Linked DNA regions of Homo sapiens. The protein of the gene in region 3 purifies or fractionates together with the protein of the main gene of each other region. This does not show direct contact. Each region holds a gene or a part of one and is shown on either strand. Other genes may lie near its edges.

What was found.
Region 1: the proteins of GLB1 (region 3) and ZC3H14 purify together in Homo sapiens (affinity purification with mass spectrometry; one large-scale study listed by BioGRID and IntAct). This does not show direct contact.
Region 2: the proteins of GLB1 (region 3) and RDX fractionate together in Homo sapiens (co-fractionation; one large-scale study listed by BioGRID). This does not show direct contact.
Region 4: the proteins of GLB1 (region 3) and DNAJC3 purify together in Homo sapiens (co-immunoprecipitation; one large-scale study listed by IntAct). This does not show direct contact.

What each region holds. Positions count from the first base shown.
Region 1 is NC_000014.9:88,569,537-88,573,036, forward strand, and holds part of ZC3H14 (zinc finger CCCH domain-containing protein 14), read left to right. Parts: intron 1-1,547; coding exon 1,548-1,588; intron 1,589-2,493; coding exon 2,494-2,689; intron 2,690-3,041; coding exon 3,042-3,471; intron 3,472-3,500. UniProt on the Homo sapiens protein: RNA-binding protein involved in the biogenesis of circular RNAs (circRNAs), which are produced by back-splicing circularization of pre-mRNAs.
Region 2 is NC_000011.10:110,255,115-110,258,614, forward strand, and holds part of RDX (radixin), read right to left. Parts: intron 3,076-3,500; coding exon 2,992-3,075; intron 2,800-2,991; coding exon 2,653-2,799; intron 293-2,652; coding exon of another isoform or gene 272-292; coding exon 175-271; intron 1-174. UniProt on the Homo sapiens protein: Probably plays a crucial role in the binding of the barbed end of actin filaments to the plasma membrane.
Region 3 is NC_000003.12:32,996,147-32,999,646, forward strand, and holds the end of GLB1 (beta-galactosidase isoform a preproprotein), read right to left. Parts: intron 1,199-3,500; coding exon 899-1,198; 3' UTR 471-898; downstream 1-470.
Region 4 is NC_000013.11:95,683,639-95,687,138, reverse strand, and holds part of DNAJC3 (dnaJ homolog subfamily C member 3 precursor), read right to left. Parts: intron 1-3,500. UniProt on the Homo sapiens protein: Involved in the unfolded protein response (UPR) during endoplasmic reticulum (ER) stress.

The sequences.
Region 1 (3,500 bases), on a different chromosome or scaffold from region 3:
TGAGGATGAGGGCTGGAGGATAATGATGTAGCTGAGAATAGACAGACGAAATACTTTATTAGGCTTCTCAGGCTAGGAACTACCAGTTACCGTGAAAGGTGATGATGTAGCAGAAGTGAGCAAGTGGCCTGCCGAATTTGAGTGCAAGAGGAGGCACTGAGTGGGGAGATGAGCCTGGTTAAGTTCTTGCCTTTATACCAAAGGTCGTCTTCAAGGTGTTTTTGCCCAAGTAGGCAACTGTATGCTTATCAACCGTCTTGAAATTCTGCACAGAATTCTCTGGGTTTATACATTGCACAAATTTGAAGAACATTGTATAGTGGTCATCAGTTGTTATGATACACTGCTGCCTCACTGTGGGTGACCCAACCCATTTGTTACAATTTGTCCCCAGAGGTTATTCCCTCCCAGCCCCCCACAAAAAAAGACTGTGGGTCTTTTGACTGGGAAAATTACCATTATTGTGAGTACTATTTTTTTTTCTAAAGCGACCGAGTAGATCCTTTTCTCCGATAACTTGATAGAATACTTAGATTTTTAAAACAGACTACCAAATGAATTTAAAACCAAATTAATTCAACATTCTCATCTGGCCATAAATTGAGTTCTTTAACATGTAGTGAAGCAAAGGGTGATGTCCCCATTTTGGCACTTTGCTTTCTTAAGTTAGTGTTCATTAACACCAGCCCCAAACAGACTATTGTGATTATTTGGAGCCTTGAAGTAATTGTGTCCGTGGGGACAGTAGCATGTGACTAGGGTTCTCATTGAAACATGAGGTTTCTGGCATATTTTGAGAGGTACTGGGAAGGGATGTAAGGCAAAGTACCTCATTTATAACTACCAAAACAGGTTATGTTACAAGCAAGATTACAGCCTTACAGCATCAGTTTTGAAAGTAATAGAGTGAAATGATATAGCATAGTTTGAGATTATAACTTGTTTTAACCTCTCAGAATTAAGTTGTCCAAGACACCATCTAGTTTAAGCAGTTAATATAAGCTGCTTAAATGGTGGTAATAATAAGCAATATTACATGTTTATGATACTTGTTTTACTGTAAGCTACAGTAAATCTTTAGTACTTACAAACAGGGTGACATATTTTGTAGACTAAGACTGGTCAGATGATATTCTTTCCCATATTTTTGCAGAGGCTAGATGTTGAAAACAGTGAAGAAAAAAATACAATTTTTTATTGACTTCTGTAGGATTTATACAAAGCCCTTTTTTAAAAATGTGAAGTTTGAAAGTTCATACCATTTATTCACTAAATACAGTTTATCAGTATTTATCTCAGCTAGGTGCGGTGGCTCACGCCCGTAATCTCAACACTTTGGGAGGCTGAGGCAGGTGGTTCTCTCAAGTCCAGGACTTCAAGACCAGCCTGGACAACACAGTGAAACCCCATCTCTATTTAAAAATAATAAAAATATAAAAAAATTTAAAAAATTATCTCTGAATATAATGTCATAAATTTAGAGTGACAGTTGAAATGAAATCTTTCTTAACAGAAGGTTTATTTTTGTTTTTTGTTTTTTTCCTCAGGCTTCATGGTGTATTAGATAAACTTCGCTCTGTTACAACTGGTAAGATTCATAACTTTTTTTTTTAATTTCTGCTTGCTATGGCATATGATTTGTTTCTTTCTAAAGTCATAGTGCTTTGGGAAAAACCCATCAATTTCAAAACGGTTCATTTGAACTTTTTTAGAAAGCACATACTTTTATGAACTTAAGAGCAGTAAATTTAACATAATTCAAAGATAATTTAAGTGTGGGAGAGGGAGCAGTGCACTTTATCCGAAGGAAATAATTACATATATGTGCAAAGATTTAGCCTCAAGGATATTTCAGTATTTTATAATTGAAAACAATTTAAAAGTTCAGTCATAATAAACGAAATTGTTGTATTACCATGTGTGGAATAATATTTAACTATTAAAAATAATGTTGTGGAAGAATAACAGAATATACACGCATAAGATACATGTTTTAAAAAATGTGTATATATGCTCTTCCCCCGAAAAATCACCTTTGAGATAATTGGTGATTTTTATTATATTTTTAAAATTTTCTACAATAAACATACTGCTTTTGAATTGGTGATGAGGAAGGAAACGACTTAAAGTAATAAAAATAGATGGCCGGGCACGGTGGCTCACGCCTGTAATCCCAGCATTTTGGGAGGCCAAGGTGGGCGGATCATGGGCTCAGGAGATGGAGACCATCTTGGCCAACCAACATGGTGAATCTCCGTCTCTACTAAAAATACAAAAATTAGCCAGGCATCGTGGCACATGCCTGTAATCCCAGCTACTTGGGAGGCCGGGGCAGGAGAATCGCTTGAACCAGGGATTTGGAGGTTGCAGGGAGCCGAGAACGCGCCACTGCCCTCCAGCCTGGCGACAGAGCGAGACTCCATCTCAAAAATAAATAAATAAATAAAAATAAGAAATAAAAATAGATTAAAAGGACTGTATTTTTCTTTTCAGAACCCTCTAGTCTGAAGTCTTCTGATACCAACATCTTTGATAGTAACGTGCCTTCAAACAAGAGCAATTTCAGTCGGGGAGATGAGAGGAGGCATGAAGCTGCAGTGCCACCACTTGCCATTCCTAGCGCGAGACCTGAAAAAAGAGATTCCAGAGTTTCTACAAGTTCGCAGGAGTCAAAAACCACAAATGTCAGGTAAGAGTCTGGTGTAGACCTGCTGGGGGCAGATGGCTCTGTGTATGTGACATTTATATTAGTTTTTATATCTTTCAGTTTGCTGTTCTCAGCAATTTTTAGAAACAATGAAGTGATCGTGAGTAGTTTTTTGAATAAAATAATGGATAAGATCTAAGTATGATTATCTTTTATCACAAATTTAGTAAATCAAAGTTGAAAGAAAGTGCAATTTCAAAGCAGTTTTGAATGGAATATGTAAAGGGAGTATCCTCAGTTTTTTCATTGAAATTTTTCAAGTAAACATTCTTTAAAGATTTGGTGATAATTGCCCTAATTTGGCTGTAATACATTTTGTTGTTCTTTTAAATAGACAGACTTACGATGATGGAGCTGCAACCCGACTAATGTCAACAGTGAAACCTTTGAGGGAGCCAGCACCCTCTGAAGATGTGATTGATATTAAGCCAGAACCAGATGATCTCATTGACGAAGACCTCAACTTTGTGCAGGAGAATCCCTTATCTCAGAAAAAACCTACAGTGACACTTACATATGGTTCTTCTCGCCCTTCTATTGAAATTTATCGACCACCTGCAAGTAGAAATGCAGATAGTGGTGTTCATTTAAACAGGTTGCAATTTCAACAGCAGCAGAATAGTATTCATGCTGCCAAGCAGCTTGATATGCAGAGTAGTTGGGTATATGAAACAGGACGTTTGTGTGAACCAGAGGTGCTTAACAGCTTAGAAGAAACGTATAGTCCGTTCTTTAGAAACAACTCGGAGAAAATGAGTATGGAGGTTTGTATGTACTTTTAAATTCTGGCTTA
Region 2 (3,500 bases), on a different chromosome or scaffold from region 3:
AATCTTTGGATTTTTATTAACATATTATTTCATCACTGGGAAAGCTGACCTATGGAAAGAGAATGGTCCTCAGAAGCAATTTAATAAATGAACACTGTTATTCTTCAAGTGATATCATGGGAAACTAGCAGATATTAAACAGTTAATACACAAAATATTAAAGAAATTACTTACAGGTGCCTTTTTGTCGATTGGCTTTATAACAAATTTTTTGTCATTAAATGAAATATTTCTGATTTCACTCCAGGGAAAACCAATTTTAGGTGTTAACCTTAAAAAATGAAAGCATCTCCTTAATTAAAGGCAGGAAACAATGAATAAAATTCCTGTTTAGGACCTAAACTGACTGAATGACCAATCTTAAGAGTTCCAGATTTTCAAAATGTATTAACTTATTCATAACTACAGTTGACCTTATCTTTTAAGGGGAAAACTGATAAATCATATAAAACAAACAACTGTCCAAAGATTTCATAAATGTGTCATGAACCTTAAAAGCAGTGTATTTTCCTAAAATTATCTAAAAAAACTACCTGGTGACCCAAGTGTAGAACTGAGCCTCCTGGGGTTTGAACTAGCTGTTCAGTTTTTATTGTTTGGATTCAAGCTACAACTACAGTTTAAATATGTGTAAGAAGTGGGAAGAAAAAAAAAGGCCTTTATAACTTCTCATGTGAATTACGGGCAAGTTACTGCAAATAAAAAAACAGTACTTCCTTCCTGTGTTTAATTTGAAAATGTCTGGATATTCACGAATATACTAAAAATACTTAATTTTCAGTATATTTTGAAAGAATCTTATGGTATATGAATTATATCTCAAAAATTTTAAACACTCACATACATAAATATTTGGATAAATGATAGAGATGGAATTCAAACTCTTGAGACTATACACAGCAGTTGACTCCGTTTTACCACCCTACACACAAAGATATAGGGAATCATATTGGAATAAGTGATTTTGTTTCTGCCTTTTCATGTATTTTACTGTTTCAGACTACCTATCAAATGCATCACTATTGTCCTATTGTCCTAATAACTAAGACTGAGAAATGATTTTGACACCTATACTGGCCAGAAGACATCTTTTAGCCAGGCTTCTGACAACACAGCATGAATTTTTACCTATTTATATTCCTTTTAGTTCTCAAGCAGAGTAGGTACTGCAGCACAGCAGAGTCTTTTCTACATAAAACATTCTTTACTCAATAAGCATATTAGAGGACCCTCTAATGGCCCCTGATATAAGTCAAAGTAACATGCTTAAAACGGAGACTGCAGGAATGCAACATAGTATTTTAGAGAACACTATGCTACGTTTATATGCTACTTTGAAAAATTCTAAAGCAATTGCCTCATATAATTCTCATAACACTCTTGTGAGGTAAGCCTGGAAGCTAATACAATAACTTTTTTAACATTTAAAAAAATTGCTCCAATATGTGCCAGAACCACCACCACCAAAAAAATTAAGAAGCCAGGCACAGTGGCTCACGCCTGTAATCTCAGCACTGGAGAAAGCAGAGGCGCAAGAATTGCTAGAGGCCAGGAGTTCAAGACCAGCCTGGGCAACATAGCAAGATCCCATTCTCTAAAACAAAAGAAAAAGATTCAGTTTACAAAAATTAGTCTTGAAGTCATTTTTGCTTTTCAAAAATTTCTCTTCTAAATGATATAACCTTCTAACTTGCTTTGTAATAAAAACATGAGAAGATATTAGGGTAAAAATAGTAAAATGCTCTTGTTTGGAATCACATATGCTTTGAAATTAGTATTTTATTAGATATCTGTAGTAATAAAAATTAAAATTCTGGAGCCAACCTAGAATAAAGAATAATGCCTTAGGAAAAGGCATTAATTACTGGCATAGACTTGCATGCTTATGTGGTATGGTAAATAAATTAAAGTCTAAGACAATTGAGTTATTAATCCTGAAAAGTAAGAGTCTGATGTATTTTATATTGCATGTGTATGTGTATAATATACCGTCTCTATATAGTATTTACCCATGTATTTGTATAGTACATATACATGTATATGTAAATATACATATATTATACATATAATAAAATATTGATGAATTATATATGTATAATAAAAAACTATTTGGTCAATTTCAAGATATAATTACAGTGTTCAATATGTGTAATACAGGGATATTCTATTGTATTAATGTCCAAACATATTTAAAACAATTCCTATATATAAATGTTCAAAAAAATCCTCTAAGATGTGATAGACATATTTATTAAATCCATTCTCTCATTGCTCCTGATTTCTTATGTATGTTCAATTTCAATCTATTTGTCAAGCATAATAGCATTTTAAAGAATTATTTCTCACCTATCGAGGGAGCAAATTTTAATTAAGTTACTAGACATAACTCACAAGAGCTAAAAGCAGCACAATTCAAATAAAAGTCAATCATCTCATTTGATAAATACACTGAAAAGTAGAACTCTGAAACTGCAAGGTGATAAGAAAATGGAGGTAAAATATCTACAAGTCTATGTGTCATTAATTCATCTTTTAGTTTGAAAATAGTAAGGGTAATCAAGACAAGAAACTACTTTGAAAAACAGGACATAAGATTAACGTCATTTAGACCACTGAACAATGACTAGTTCACTATGCAACTAATTTACTTACTTGTCGTCATGCTCATAAATATTCAGACCCAAAGCATCAACACCTAGCCACAATTCAGTTCCTTTTTTATTTTTTATTTCAAAATAGTTGACTCCATACATTTCTAGATCTTGTGCAATCTTCAGGTATTCCATCATAGAATCCTCCCTGTTGAAATAAAACTAAATGTAATATATTTAAGTAGGAGCATATCAAACTAAAGTTGCAAAATACCTGGAATTAAAAATTAGTACTTTACATAAGTCAAACAATCTTTTGGAAATAATGTAATAATAAATGTTACGACATGAAAATACTTTGAAGGAAAAAAGAAAACATAGAAAATAGCTACCCAAATACCTTAACATTCCTCTATGTTCTTCATGCCAGTTCTGTATTCTTTCTTCCCACTGTTCTTTTGTTAGTTTGTGTTGTTCCAATACACTAAGAGGACCAAAAAAAAAAAAAAATTATAATGACTTTAAGATTCAAAAGCATACACTTTAAAAGTAAAGAATCCTTTCAGTAACTTGACTGTGGTAGTTGTCAGACAATTAATACACATGATGAAATTGCATAGAACTAAATTACATACACACAGAAATGAGTGCAGGTAAAACTGATGTAATCTGAATAAGGTGGCTAGATTGTACCAATGTCAATATCTTGTTTGTAATATTGTACTGTAGTTACACAAGATGTTACCATCAGGGAATGCTGGGAGAAGGATACCAGGGATCTCTTTTTTTTACAACTGCATAATAATCAGTAATTATCTCAAAGTTAAGTGTCTAGGATCCTTAAATTCCTTGAAATAATACTTGCTCCATAAAGTGATTACAAAGATAGCTTATAGGAACCCAAACAGT
Region 3 (3,500 bases):
TAAACATAAACTCAGAACTGTGCATGGTGTAGAACAAGTCCTCAACAAATGAGAGCTACTGCTCCATGTCAGGACAGGAATATCAGAAACACCACATCCTTTCCTATCTGTGCACATACACAGCACACACACACGTGCATGCCTGACTACTGACATGTGTATAGGCCTGTACTGTGTGAATATGTGAAGTTCTTATGTTGAAACACACAAAACGGGATCCAATTTAAGGTAATCTGTTTTTTCATGTATCAAAAAATTTGCATATAAGTATAGATCTCTCACCATTTTAGTGGCTAAAATACTATGCTTCTATATAGATATACCATACTATGTACACTGTGCAACTGTTAATCATTTAGATTGTTTGCATAATTGTTTTGAGCTGTATTTATAGGTTATCTAGTCCAAAAGCAAGTCAAATAACGATCAGAAAAGCAGCAGTCCACAGATCAAACCAAGACTATTTTCCATCCTTTTGAACTTCAAGTTAGTGAAGTGGTTTATTCAGCCCACTCAAGTCTAGTTATGATTTAAGTCAGACCATATAATTCAATACCTGCACATTAAAAACAGTGACATCATCATTTGAGTACAAATTTTATTTAACAAAAAGGTAACATGATTCTTCCAAAATAAAAATCACTACCACCTTTAAAGCTTCCATTCCAGCCCTGCAGATATGTATGCACGTTACTGTGCTGTCAGCCCCTCACACATTCCAGGTGGTCCCTGAAGGTGGGGCTTTGGCACTGCAGGGATGCAGGGAAACCTCAGGTGAAAATGCACATCCTAAATTCCTTTTCCATTTCCACATTCCAATCAGTGAAATGTGGCATGACAGGGAGGATCTGTGAGGTATGTTCAGGGTAGAATCCCTCAAAGACACAGGCTTTCATCATCATACATGGTCCAGCCATGAATCTTTGTTTTTTTGCGGGGGTGGGGGCATGAGTCTTTTTTCAACAGGTTTGGAGGGATGATCGTAGGTCACAGATGAGCCAATAACTGGCCTGTCCACGAACGTCACAGCACATAGTTCTGGATCATCACTGCTGCAGGGTGCCCACTCCAGTTCCAGCACGGTGATGGTGTTTGGGGCCGAGGTCATCAGGATGTGCTGGGGCACAAACAAGGTCAACTGAGGGCCCCGGGCTGGCCAATAGCGGCCAAGGTTAAAGCCATTAATCCAGACCTGGCCCTGGAGAGAGAGAGACAGAGAACCATCAACCCCAGATGCACCGAAAGCCCTGAGGAAGGTGGGGGCCCTGATGTAGGGCAGGCCAGCAGCAATGGAGGAAAGAAATGCCCCCAGAAAGGCGAGGCTGACAGCCAGGCCCATGCCAGCCTTGGTTTTAGCTTCTTGCTGGGATAACTGGCCAAGGTGGGAAGAAGGTGGATGCCCCCATCCACCTTCTTTGGGGCAACAAAAACTTGCCCCAAAGACCCACTCCTGCTTCAGGAAAATACAGGTTTGGTCCCTCTGACGGGCTTCAGTGGCCACAGATGTTGGTACCAGAGAACAGTGTGGAAATTTCTGAATTTCATCCTGGTTCCCAGGTGCTGCCTGTACCCACAGACCAGCCTCTCCCTGACTTTTCTGTACACAGAAGACAACTGCTGAACTGCTTCCTTAAATAGATCTTTTCCTTCTTTGTTCTCCTTTCCCAGAGGCAGGTCTTGACCTCACTATCTGCTGTACACCTGGTGAACACAGGGAACAGAGGACTCCAGGGCCTGCATCCTGAGGTCAGACAGGTACCAGGAGTGGTCCCCAAAACAACCCCTCAAGAGGGATAGGGGGGTTTGGGGTGAGGGAGAGGAAGAGGCTTATCCAGTTGGGTGTCTATATTACTGCTATGTTCTAAGGACTCTTACAGGCACCCTCAGAGTTAGGGTGTGGACTCCATGTTTGGTTCAGGAGCAGAGGTGATGCTATAGGTTGCATAAACAATTTCTGTGAGTAGGGGAAGCTGCTTCCCATAACAAAACTGAAAGTGGAGGATAAACTCCTAAAAAACAGGGACCATGTTTAGGTCTGTCTACACAGCCTCTCTGTATGTGCTAAAATTTGCTCAAAGGGGCTGAGTGCAGTGGCTCATGCCTGTAATCCCAGAACTTTGGGAGGCCAAGGCAGGCAGATCACCTGAGGTCAGGAGTTCGAGACCAGCCTGGCCAACATGGTGAAACCCCGTCTCTACTAAAAATACAAAAATTAGCCAGGTGTGGTGGCACATGCCTGTAATCCCAGTTACTCAGGAGGCTGAGGCAAGAGAATCACTTGAACCCAGGGAGGCAGAGGTTGCAGTGAGCTGAGATTGCGCCACTGCACTCTAGCCTTGCGCAGTGACAGAGCAAGACTCCGTCTCAAAAAAAAAAAAAAAAGATTTGCTCAAAGCTCAAAGGCTAGGATCAACAGCTGGCTGAATAGATGGACCATTCTATTACAAAGAAAGAAAGTGAAGATGGGGAGATCACATACACGCAAAAGAAAGAGAAAATCTGGGAGAAGAAAGGAAAACATAAAGGGAGAAGGAAGAGGAAAGAGGAATGGAAGAAGGGAGGGAGGCAGGAAAGAAACTGTGACCTACAATGGCCCAGATATCCTAGGAGACAGCCTGGAGGAGGCCCAGCCATGGCTGACACCTGCTGAGCCCTAATCCTCATCACGTTCTGCAACACAACTCTGCTGCTCACCCCAGGGCTCCTCAGTCTTCTTACGTTTGGGTATTTTTCAGCCTCCAAGTGTCCCCTTTACTTTAGATCCTTCTGAATTTCCTACCTGAGTTCGTATCTGTGTCCTGCCACTTACTAGCTGTCTGACCTTGGGCAGGTCTCAACTCAATTTTTCATACCAGTCATTGGGGACAATGATGATGAAGGAACAGTGTGTGGCCTGTAAGCGGTAGCACTCCTTACATGATTAAAGTGAAAAGATGTTGGTGTTCCAATGCCTACAAAAGAAGGGGGTCCGTGATTAAAAACCACCTGTCTGTTGGATTAAGTCATTTAGAAAGAGGACGACAGTTTCACAGTTCTCAGAACTATTTCACTCTTGTTTTTACCCTGGGATATGTTATCTCATTCCATCCTAAAAGGTATATACAATGACAGCTTTAGCAGGTTTTTATCAGCTTAAAATCTGCCGGTGCCTTGTTTTTGCAGTATTAGAGAACAGTAGCACTTTACTTTTGCGGTCAAGGGGGAAGACAGAGAAGTGGGAGGGCATTACGAGCAGCAGCCAAGGAATGGCACGCACCACACAGGCTTCATGCTATGGTCAGGACACAGGCCAAGCCAACTCTTGACCAAATCGCAGGTGAACAAAGTGGAGGTTTGGTCCTTTCTCAAACCTCAAGTTCCATTTCATAAGCATCCAAGAGATGGGCCCTCACATGCCGGGTGGACTGTGCACCTGGTAGGTAAGCTGGGAATTGTTTTCCCTGGATCCCCTTCCCTGGATGGTTCTGGGTTAGCGTTGGTCAGAAGAGGCCCTTGCTTGA
Region 4 (3,500 bases), on a different chromosome or scaffold from region 3:
CAAAAGCCATATGCAAAAAAATAAAATACCTAGGAAAACACTGACCAAGGAGGTGAAAGATCTCCATGAGAACTACAAAACACTTATGAAACAAATCATATATGTCATAAATAAACACAAAAACATCCCAGGCTCATGGATTTGGAGACTATCATTAAAATAACCATACTGCCCATAGTAATCTGTAGATTCAACACAATTCCTATCAAATCACCAATGTCATTTTTCAGAGAACTAGGAAAAACAATTCTAAAGTCCATACAGCACCAAAAAAGGGCATGAATAGCCAAAGTAATCCTAACCAAAAAGAACAAATCCAGAGGCATCACATTACTTGACTTCAAATTATACTACAAGGCTATAGTAACTAAAATGGCATGGTACTGGTACAAAAATACGCACACAGATCAATGGACTACAATAGAGAACCCCAGAAATAAAACCACATACTTACATCCAACAGATTGATCTTTGACAAAGCTGACAAATATAAACAACAGGGAAAGGACACCCTAATTCAATAAATGGTGCTGGGAAAATTGGCTAGCCATATGCAGAAGAAACTGGATCTCTGTCTCCCAGCATATACAAAAACTACCTCAAGATAGATTAAACATTTTGGACATTGGCCTAGGCAAACAACTTATGACGAAGACCCCAAACACAAATGCAACAAAACCAAAAATAAACAAATGGGACTTAACTAAAAAGCTTCTGCACATCAAAAGATAATCAACAGGGCAAAGAGACAAACTACAGAATGAGAGAAAACATTTGCAAATTATGCCTCCGACAAAGGACTAATATCCAGAATCTACAAGACACTCAAACAACTCAACAAGAAGAAAACAAAGAACCCCATTAAAAAGTGGGCAAAGGGCCAGGCGCACTGGCTCACGCCTGTAATCCCAGCACTTTGGGAGGCCAAGGCGGGTGGCTCACAAGGTCGGGAGATCAAGACCATTCTGGCTAGCACAGTGAAACCCTGTCTCTACTAAAAATACAAAAAATTAGCCGGGCATGGTGGCAGGCACCTGTAGTCCCAGCTGCTTAGGAGGCTGAGGCAGGAGAATGGCGTGAACCTGGGAGGCGGAGCTTGCAGTGAGCCAAGATCGTGCCACTGCATTCCAGCCTGGGCGACAGAGCAAGACTCTGTCTCAAAAAAAAAAAAAGTGGGCAAAGGACATTAAGAGACATTTCTCAAAAGAAGACATACAAGCAGCCAACAAACATGAAAAAATGTTCATCACTAATCATCAGAGAAATGCAAATTAAAACCACAATGAAATATCAATCATCTTACACAAGTCTGAGTGGCTATTACTAAAAAGCTTAAAAAAAAATAGATGTTAGCATGGAGGTGAAGAAATTGTAACACATATATGGGTGGCAGCAATGTAAATTAGTTCAACCACTATGGAAAACAATATGGAGATTTCTAAAAAAAAACAAAAAACCTACCACCAAGCCCCAACTCCAACATTAGGGATTACAATTCAACATAAGATTTGGGTGGGGCACAGATCCAAACCATATCATTCCGCCCCAGCTCCTCCAAAATATCATGTTCTCACATTACAAAATACAATCATCCCTTCTCAACAGCCCCCAAAGTCTTAACTCATTCCAGCATTAACTCAAAAGTCCAAAGTCTCATCTGGGACAAGCCAAGTCCCTTCCACCTATAAGCCTATAAAATCAAAAACAAGTTAATTACTTCCAAGATACAATGGGATTATAGGCATTGGGTAAATAGTCCCATTCCAAAAGGGTAAAACCGGCCAAAAGAAAAAGGCTACGGGCCCCATGCACGTGCTAAAACCCAGCAGGGCAGTTATTAAATCTTAAAGCTCCAAAATAATCTCCTTTGACTCCATGTCTCACATCCAGGGCATATTGCAGCAAGGGGTGAGCTCCCAAGGCCTTGGGCAGTGCCACTCCTGTGACTTTGCAGGGCTCAGCCCACGCGGCTGCTGTCAAGGGCTGGCAATGAGTGGCTGCAGCTTTTCCAGGTGCATGGTGCAAGCTGTCAGCGGATCTACCATTCTGGGGTCTGAAAGATGGTGGTCTTTCTCACAGCTCCACTAGGCAGTGCCCCAGTGGGGACTCTGTTGGGGGCTCCAACCCCACATTTCCCCTCTGCACTGCCCTAGTAGAGATTTTTCCATGAGGGCTCTGCCCCTGCAGCAACCTTCTGCCTGAACATCCAGGCTTTTCCATATATCTGAAATCTAGGCTGAGGCTCCCAAGCCTCAATTCTTGGCTTTCAGCACCTGCAGGCTTAACAGCATGTGGAATCTTCCAAGGGTTTGGGCTGGCACCGTCTGAAGGCCTGAGCTATATCTGGGCCCCTTTCAGCCATGGCTGGAGCTGGAGTAACTAGGATGCAGGCAGCAGTGTCCTGAGGCTGGCAGGGCCCTGGCCCAGGAAACTGTTCTTCCCTCCTAGGTCTCTGGGCCTATGATAGAAGGAGCTGCCTTAAAGGTCGCTGAGATGCCTTGGAGCCCTTTTTCCCATTGTCTTGGCTATCAGCACTTGGCTCCTCTTTACTTATGCAAATTCATGCAGTCTGCTTGAATTACTCCCCTATAAATGGGTTTTTCTTTTCTACCACATGGTCAGACTGAAAATTTTCCAACTCTTCTGCTCTGTTTCCCTTTTAAATGTAAGTTCCAATTTTACATCATTTCTTTGTTCATGAATATGAGCACTGGCTGCTAGAGGCCAGGTCACATCTTGAACACTTTGCTGCTTAGAAGTTTCTTCCACCAGATACCCTAAATCACCTCTCTCAAGTTCAAAGTTCCACAGATCCATAGACCAGGGGTACAATGCCACCAGTCTCTTTACTAAAGCATAGCAAGAGTGGCCTTTACTCCAGTTCCCAATAAGTTCCTCATCTGCGGTCATTCTGAGCCCTCCTCAGCCTGAACTTCACTGTCTATACCACTATCAGCATTTTGGTCACAACCATTCAACAAGTCTCTAGGAGGTTTCAAACTTTCGTTCCTCTTCCTGTCTTCCTCTGAGTCCTCCAAACTGTCCCAACCTCTGCCCATTACCCCATTCCAAAGTTGCTTCCTTCTACAATTTCAGGTATCTTTATAGCAATGCCCCACTCCCAGTACCAATTTTCTGTATTAGTCCATTCTCACATTGCTATAAAGAAATACCCGGAACTGGGTAATTTTTTTTTTTTTTTTTTTGAGATGGAGTTTTGCTCTGTCACCCAGGCTGGAGTGCAGTGGTGCAATCTCGGCTCACTTCATCCTCTGCCTCCCAGGTTTAAGCAATTCTCTGCCTCAGCCTCCCAAGTAGCTGGGATTTCAGGCGCCCACCTCCACAACAGGCTAAGTTTTTTTTTTTTTGTATTTTTAGTAGAGACGGGGTTTCACCATCTTGCCCAGGCTGATCTTGAACTCCTGACCTCGTGATCCATCCACCTCGGCCTCCCAAAGTGCTGGGATTACAGGCGTGAGCCACAGTGCCCAGCCGGAACT